2 linked regions of the Homo sapiens genome follow. The protein of the gene in region 2 interacts with the protein of the main gene of each other region in a pairwise test. Each region holds a gene or a part of one and is shown on either strand. Other genes may lie near its edges.

The links. The genes of interacting proteins can lie anywhere in the genome.
Region 1: the proteins of KRTAP3-1 (region 2) and NTAQ1 interact in binary tests that used the Homo sapiens proteins (3 or more experiments, as listed by UniProt).

Annotation. Positions count from the first base shown.
Region 1 is NC_000008.11:123,426,683-123,430,436, forward strand, and holds part of NTAQ1 (protein N-terminal glutamine amidohydrolase), read left to right. Parts: intron 1-1,241; coding exon 1,242-1,341; intron 1,342-3,300; coding exon 3,301-3,351; intron 3,352-3,754. UniProt on the Homo sapiens protein: Mediates the side-chain deamidation of N-terminal glutamine residues to glutamate, an important step in N-end rule pathway of protein degradation.
Region 2 is NC_000017.11:41,007,934-41,011,331, forward strand, and holds KRTAP3-1 (keratin-associated protein 3-1), read right to left. Parts: upstream 1,196-3,398; 5' UTR 1,142-1,195; coding exon 845-1,141; 3' UTR 588-844; downstream 1-587. UniProt on the Homo sapiens protein: In the hair cortex, hair keratin intermediate filaments are embedded in an interfilamentous matrix, consisting of hair keratin-associated proteins (KRTAP), which are essential for the formation of a rigid and resistant hair shaft through their extensive disulfide bond cross-linking with abundant cysteine residues of hair keratins.

The DNA of each region.
Region 1 (3,754 bases), on a different chromosome or scaffold from region 2:
GGGCACGGTGGCTCACTCTGTAATCCCAGCACTTTGGGAGGCTGAGGTAGGTGGATCACTTGAGATCAAGAGTTTGAGACCAGCCTGGCCAACATGGTGAAACACCATCTCTACTAAAAATACAAAAGTTAGCTGGGTGTGGTGCTGCACGCCTGTAATCCCAGCTACTCAGGAGGCTGAGGCATGACAATCACTTGAACCTGAGAAGTGGAGGTTGCAGTGAGCCGAGATCACACCACTGCACTCCATCCTGGGCAGTGAAGTAAGACTCTGTCTCCAAAAATAAATAAATAAAAAAAATAAAATTATGTCCCTTTCTTACTAGAGGGGCATGGGGAATCCCACTCACAGGGATTCCCCCAAATGAGTTCCCGGACATATCACATAATTGCTCCTGATTCTTTCCAGCCAGGAGGCTTTCAACCCAAAACACCCATCCTGCCCCATTTCTAAAGAGAGCAGGGAACCAGTGTTAACTAAGATTTTTGTGTGTTTACAGTATATGATTATGCCCATTTTACACATGAGAAAAGCAGATTCTTGGAGAAGTCAAGATGGTCAAAGCTTTTTTTTTTTTTTTTTTTTTTGAGTTGGAGTCTTGCTCTGTTGTCCAGGCTAGAGTGCAGTGGTGTGATCTTTGGCTCACTGCAACTTCTGTCTCTCAGGTTCGAGCAATTCTCCTGCCTCAGCCTCCCAAGTAGCCGGGATTACAGGCACCCGCCACCATGCCTGGCTAATTTTAGTATTTTTAGTAGAGACGGGGTTTCACCATATTGGTCAGGCTGGTCTCTCTGCCAGGCTGGTCTCGAACTCCTGACCTCGTGATCCGCCCGCCTCGGCCTCCCAAAGTGCTGGGATTACTGGCCTGAGCCACCACGCCTGGCCTTTGTCAAAGGTTCTTACCTTGTAAGTGGCTGAGTTAGAATTTCAGCTGTATTACAAGTTGCTGGGCCCAAAACTCATAGAATATTGACATATTTTATCAGTTATAAAATGCCTCCATGTACAAGCACTGCTAGGGGAGGTAATTAGCTCTGTGTGGAGAGGGGTTTACACACAGTATAGGTTGAATACCAGCTTGTTGGGATGTTTTAGAGGAGATTCAGACATTAGCCAGTTGTTGGATGACATGGGGTTTAAGGTCTTTTCCAACTTTTTGATGTCATCATCAGTATTTTGTTCAAATTTAAAAGACACATAGAATGTTCTCTAATCTTGATTAAACAATTATTTTATTTCAGTGAAGAAAATATTTGGAAGCTCTGTGAATACATCAAAAACCATGACCAGTATCCTTTAGAAGAATGTTATGCTGTCTTCATATCTAATGAGAGGAAGATGGTAAGTTGGTGAGTGATTGCAGAAAGAAAACAAGAGATTTAGGATGACATTAGAAGCTAAATTAAAAAAAAAAAAGCTAAATATAGCATGGGTGTAGTACTCTTCTGAAGTGTGCTTTATTAAATACAGCAACATTTAAAAGCTTGCTTTTGAATGAGATTTTTTTCCTTACAAGGCACGATTGAGTTAGAAGAGTTGAGTCCCTTCTGTCGCCCAGGCTGGAGTGCAGTGGCGTGATTCTTGGCTCACTGCAACCTCCACCTCCCGGGTTCAAGCGATTCTCCTGCCTCAGCCTCCCAAGTAGCTGAGACTACAGGCATGTGCCACCACGCCCAGCTAATTTTTGTATTTTTTAGTAGAGATGGGGTTTTGCTATGTTGGCCAGGCTGGTCTCGAACTCCTGGCCTCAAGTGATCCTCCCACCTCAGCCCCCCAAAGTGCTGGGAGTACAGGTGTGAGCCACCATGCCCAGCTTAGTCCCTTACTTTAGGTAAGGAAATATGTGATGGTCTACGCAGATAAAGTCCCTTTTCTTTAGGTATCAATGTAGACCTGTTTTTTTTTGTTTGTTTGTTTGTTTTTTCTTTTATTTTTTGGTACGGAGTCTCACTCTGTTGCCCAGGCTATAGCACAATGGTGTGATCTCGGCTCACTGCAACCTCTGCCTCCCAGGTTCAAGTGATTTTTGTGTCTCAGGCTCCCAAGTAGCTGGGACTACAGGTGTCCCACCACGATGGCCGGCTAATTTTTGTATTTTCAGTAGAGACAGGCTTTCTCCATGTTGGCCAGTCTGGTCTCGAACTCCTAACCTCAGGTGACCTGTCTGCCTTGGCCTCCCAATGTGGTGGGATTACCAGCATGAGCCACTGTGCCTGGCCATTTTTTTTTCTTTTTTTAAATTCAAGATGGAAGATGTAGACTTTTTAAAAATTGCTTAGAGACGCATACTCTCAGTTTTAAAGTAAGGATTTGTCTCTGGAGTTTAAATAGAACTACAGTCAACTTACATGAAGAATTAGAAAAAGTAAGCCCTTCATATTTTGTAAAACACATTTGCAGGCATCATCTCATTTGATCCCAATGGAAGCCCTGTGAAGCAGGCAATATTTGGACAAGTTTCTTCATTTTATAGATGAAGAGATTAAGACTTAGGGTGGCCCTATGAATAATTAAATGGGAGAGCAAGATTTGATACCTGCCAGGACTTCTGATTCCTAGTTCAGATCCCTTTTCACTCTCCAAAGACCATCATACAATAACTAGTGCTCTTGAGAGCTTTCATTGTTGGGGATACTTAGAAGGATTTCGATTTCTTCCTCTTCATTCATTCCTTCACCTTGATTTTTGCATGCTTAAAAATATTTTATTTCTCATGTATGTATTGCTTTAAATAGTAGTAGCCAGGTACAGTGACACGTGCCTGTAGTCCCAGCTACTTGTGAGGCGGCTGAGGCGGGCAGATCTCTTGAAGCCAAGAGTTCAAGGCTGCAGTATACTATGATGGCACCTGTGAGTAGCCACTGCACTCCAGCCAGGGCAGCATCACAAGATCCTGTCTTGGCCAGGTGCGGTGGCTCACGCCTATAATCCCAGCACTTTGGGAGGCTGAGGTGGGCAGATCACTTGAGATCAGGAGTTCGAGACCAGCCTGGCCAACATGATGAAACCTTGTGTCAAAACCCTTCATCAAAAAATAAAAATAAAAAATTAGCTGGGTGTGGTGGCACACGCCTGTAATCCCAGCTACTTGGGAAACTGAGGCAGGAGAATTGCTTGAACCCGGGAGGTGGAGGTTGCAGTAAGCCCAGATTGTGCCACTGCACTCCAGCCTGGGTGACAGAGCAGGACTCTGTCTCAAAAAAAAAAAAAAAAAATCCCGTCTCAAAAAAAAAAAAAGGAAAATAATTTAGTAGTGGTTTAACTAAAGGTATGGCTTACGAAATGTATTGTATTTTGTAGATACCTATCTGGAAACAACAGGCGAGACCTGGAGATGGACCTGTGATCTGGGTAAGACAGTTAATACAGAGAGTATTGACGCATTATGACTTGTAACCCCTTAGTGTTCTGTATGTTTTGGTAAAGCAGAAGTGACCTAAGCAGTAGAGAAAGGCTATGGTAATTATTAATAAATTGACCTTTTGAGAATAGATGTTATTTGATCTAAGGTAGAAACACTGTAGGCATATTTTCTTTTAACTTTTTGTTTTGAAATTATTATAGGAATGATTTTAAATGGTGGATATATTTGTGATCTAGACTCTTACCATTTAGCACAGGAAGGAACTTTGGCTACACATTAGAATTATCTGGAGACTGTTAAAAATGTAGTTTTCGGCTGGGCGCGGTGGCTCACACCTGTAATCCCAGCAGTTTGGGAGGCCAAGGTGGACGGATCACTTGAGGCCAGGAG
Region 2 (3,398 bases):
ATGACTAATGTAAACCAATGTAAGCCCCATTTGAGGAATCAATGAATACTCGATAAATGCTAACATTAATTAAAAATGGATTGTTTTGGAAGACAGCATATATGAAGAAATGGATATATACACTTCTCAAAATTGCTTTGCATTTTGAGCTCAGAATTTCAGATGACTGTGAGGACTAGGATAATCAAATTATTTATACACACCAGCACAGTGATCAATTCATTTAGTCAATTAAGGAAGAAAGAAAAATCAATGTCAGAATCAATGGAAACTAAAATCAAGTATTTTTAAAACATTCTGTTAATCTCTAGACTCTAGCATAGTGCTTGCACAGTGGATGTCTTCCAATAATATCTATTAAATAAATATCTGTTAAATAAAAAGCTTCTATAAAATGAACTACCACATTTTTTACTTTTTAACTTATCACAAATAACCAGTATCTATTTTTTCGATAAATTCCACTATGAGAGCTCTTATTCTGTTGGGGTAAATCTTGGATAGTGTGATAACCTACTGTTCAGGTTTAGGTAGGCATTCCACTTTCCCTAATGGGAGACATGAAAATAAATAATCACAAGGTCATATTTGCTAAGCCAGAATAAAGTTTATTAACAAATGGTCAAAATGGTTATTTCTCAAAGAGTGATGAAATAGCCTAAAAGACAGAAGGGAGGTCTCCAATGGTACCCAAATGTGCAAATAATTAAGAAGATTCATCAAGACTTGGCCCCGGGGATTGGGATGGCCTTAGCCTTGATGTAGGCAGTAGTGAGTGCTGAAGCCCAGATGGTGCAGAGGACATTGGGCAGCCACCTCACGGAACCTGTGCAGACTCGGCTGGTTAACAGCGGGGCTCACAGGGACTCTCACAGCCAGGCTGAACATAGGTGGTCAGGTTGATCCCACTCAGTCCGGGAGTCGGGTGACAGTTGTTGAGCAGCCAGCAAGTTGGCACATAGGTATCAGGCTTGCAGCAGGGTGGGGGGCAGGTGTCACAGCAGATGGGCTGAAGGAGGCTGATCTCATGTGGGCAGGTGCTGGGTAGGCAGACTCCACAGCGGCAGCTTTTATCAAATGAGCAGAAGGTGGTGGCAGGGCCGGTGGGGACGCTGCAGGAGCGGAGAGCACAGCAATACATGGCAATGGGAGGTGGGTTTTTGTTGAGTTGAGAGAAGTCTGTTGGTGTCTCGATGCTCCTCTCTTCTGCTCTGGCTCTTATATACCCATCTCCCTGGGCGTCAGCCTATTACTGAGGGTTTTTCCCCCATGTTTCAGTTTATAGTTATTTCCATAAAAAATGCCTAATTACTTAAGTGTTTATTACCTAAGATACACTGCTCACCTCATAAAAGAGATTTAGGTTGTTTTGTTGTCAAATTAGGACTATTCACATTGCCAGTGTGTCACTACACAGAAATCTTCATTCCAGTCTTCAAAGGTACCGGGCCATTATCTTCTAATCATTATACCCTCACTAATAATGGCTCGGTATGCCAGGCATCTGCAAACGTTTCCCACTTCTTTTGTTTACTTTTCAGATGAAGAGGACAAGTAAGCTTTTTGTTTGCTGTTCTACCAGTGACTACAGGTTCTATGTGATCCTTTAGGCCCTCAGGCTGAAAAAGTGATATAACATTTTAGATTTATTATTTGTGGCTCCAATAAACTGAATGAAGATGAATGGATAGAATCTATAGAGAAATAGATTTTGGTTTTGTGTAAAGAGGCACTTTCAAACAGAGCTATAACAAATCGTTTGTTCTGCATTCCTTTCAAATATGCTCTGAACAATAACTTGGTAAGAACATGCAGGTGGGAATGAAGACCTTCATGGGTGACAAAGATGGGTGTCCTTTAAGCTCCATCCAACTGTGTTATAAATGGAGATTATTTATAACCAAAAGGCTGGTTGTATTGGGCCATTCAGAAGCTAAATGATGCAGTATTTACCAGACTGAGTTCCATGAACACTGGTTCCAAGGGACTTGAAAGTGTTTTCTGGTAAGTAAGTTTGGGAAATGCTGAATTCTTCATTGTTGGGCCTCTCGGAGCCTTTAATGTGCTAAAATGCTCTATGACTTTTCAATACAGAGATATAGCATATATTTTTCTCCAAACTTACTTGACCATGGACTGCTTTTTGTTTGTTTTCAGAGATTAGCTCTATAGGTCAGTGCTTTATGAAACATACTTGGGGAGATTTAGCAACATCTTACAGCAAGCTTGTTCAACCTGTGGCCCAGAAAGGCATTGAATGCAGCACAACACAAATTCATAAACTTTCTTAAAACATTATGAGATTTTTTTGTGATTTTTTTTCTTTTTTTGCTCATCAGCTGTCATTAGTGTTAGTGTATTTTATGTGTGGCCCAAGACAATTCTTCTTTCAATGTGGCCCAGGGAAGCCAAAACATTGAACACCCCTGTCTTACTTCCAGGCTCTGTGGTCCAGAATAGAGACATTTCCGAGTTTCATCTAAACCACTAAAACTCTAAAAATAAAGTTTTAAAAGTAGATAAAGGTAGAAAATTTAGTATGATGATTTAGAATTACTTTAGAATATGAAAAATACTAAACTGGTAAAACCTTTAGAAATGGCTTACTTAGAAAGGCTTAAAAACATGTACATATTTTCTTGACCCATTTTTTCAGATAAGATGGCTCAAGTTCTAAAGTAGAAAATTGCACAATGCAGAGGAATCAGAAGCCAAATGAGATGCAAATCAACAAGATGTTGGATTAAAAAAATGCTTAGCATGAAACTGCTTTCTTTTTAGCCATTTTCTTATTGGAATGATTTTGCAGTTTTGGATTCCTATGCTAGAATTTACATCTCTCTTAGATATTTACATATCAAAATTAGAATTTACATATAAAATGCTCATTGATTGAACACCTGTTGTATGTTGGGCATCATGCAAAAAGTCGCAATAGGCTCCTGCCCTTACAGGGGTCATAGAGAAGAAGACAGACACAGAGAAGTAAACCAGCAAACAATAACAAAGGATTGTACATTTAGATTTTCCAGGTTATGATATGAGAATTTAGAGGTAGAAGCCACAGACTTCTCCTAGAAAACTTAGGAAGCCCTTCACAAAAAGAGAACATCTGTTTGGATCTTGAAGGGTGAAAAGGAGCTGAGCAGATAGAAATAAATAGGAAGGAGATTTCAGCCATTGAAACAAAATGCCACAGGGCCCCCATGGTATGACAAAAAGTGTTGCCTGGTTGAAGCATAGGTTCTGAATCTGTTGGAATGAAGACGGAAAGGTGGGTTAGTGCCACAGTATGAAGAATTTGTACTGTGCTTAGTATCCTACACTTAGGATTTTGAACTTTATCTTGTAGGCAATAGGCATTATGTAAAGGTTGCTGAACAGGCATGTGACATGAC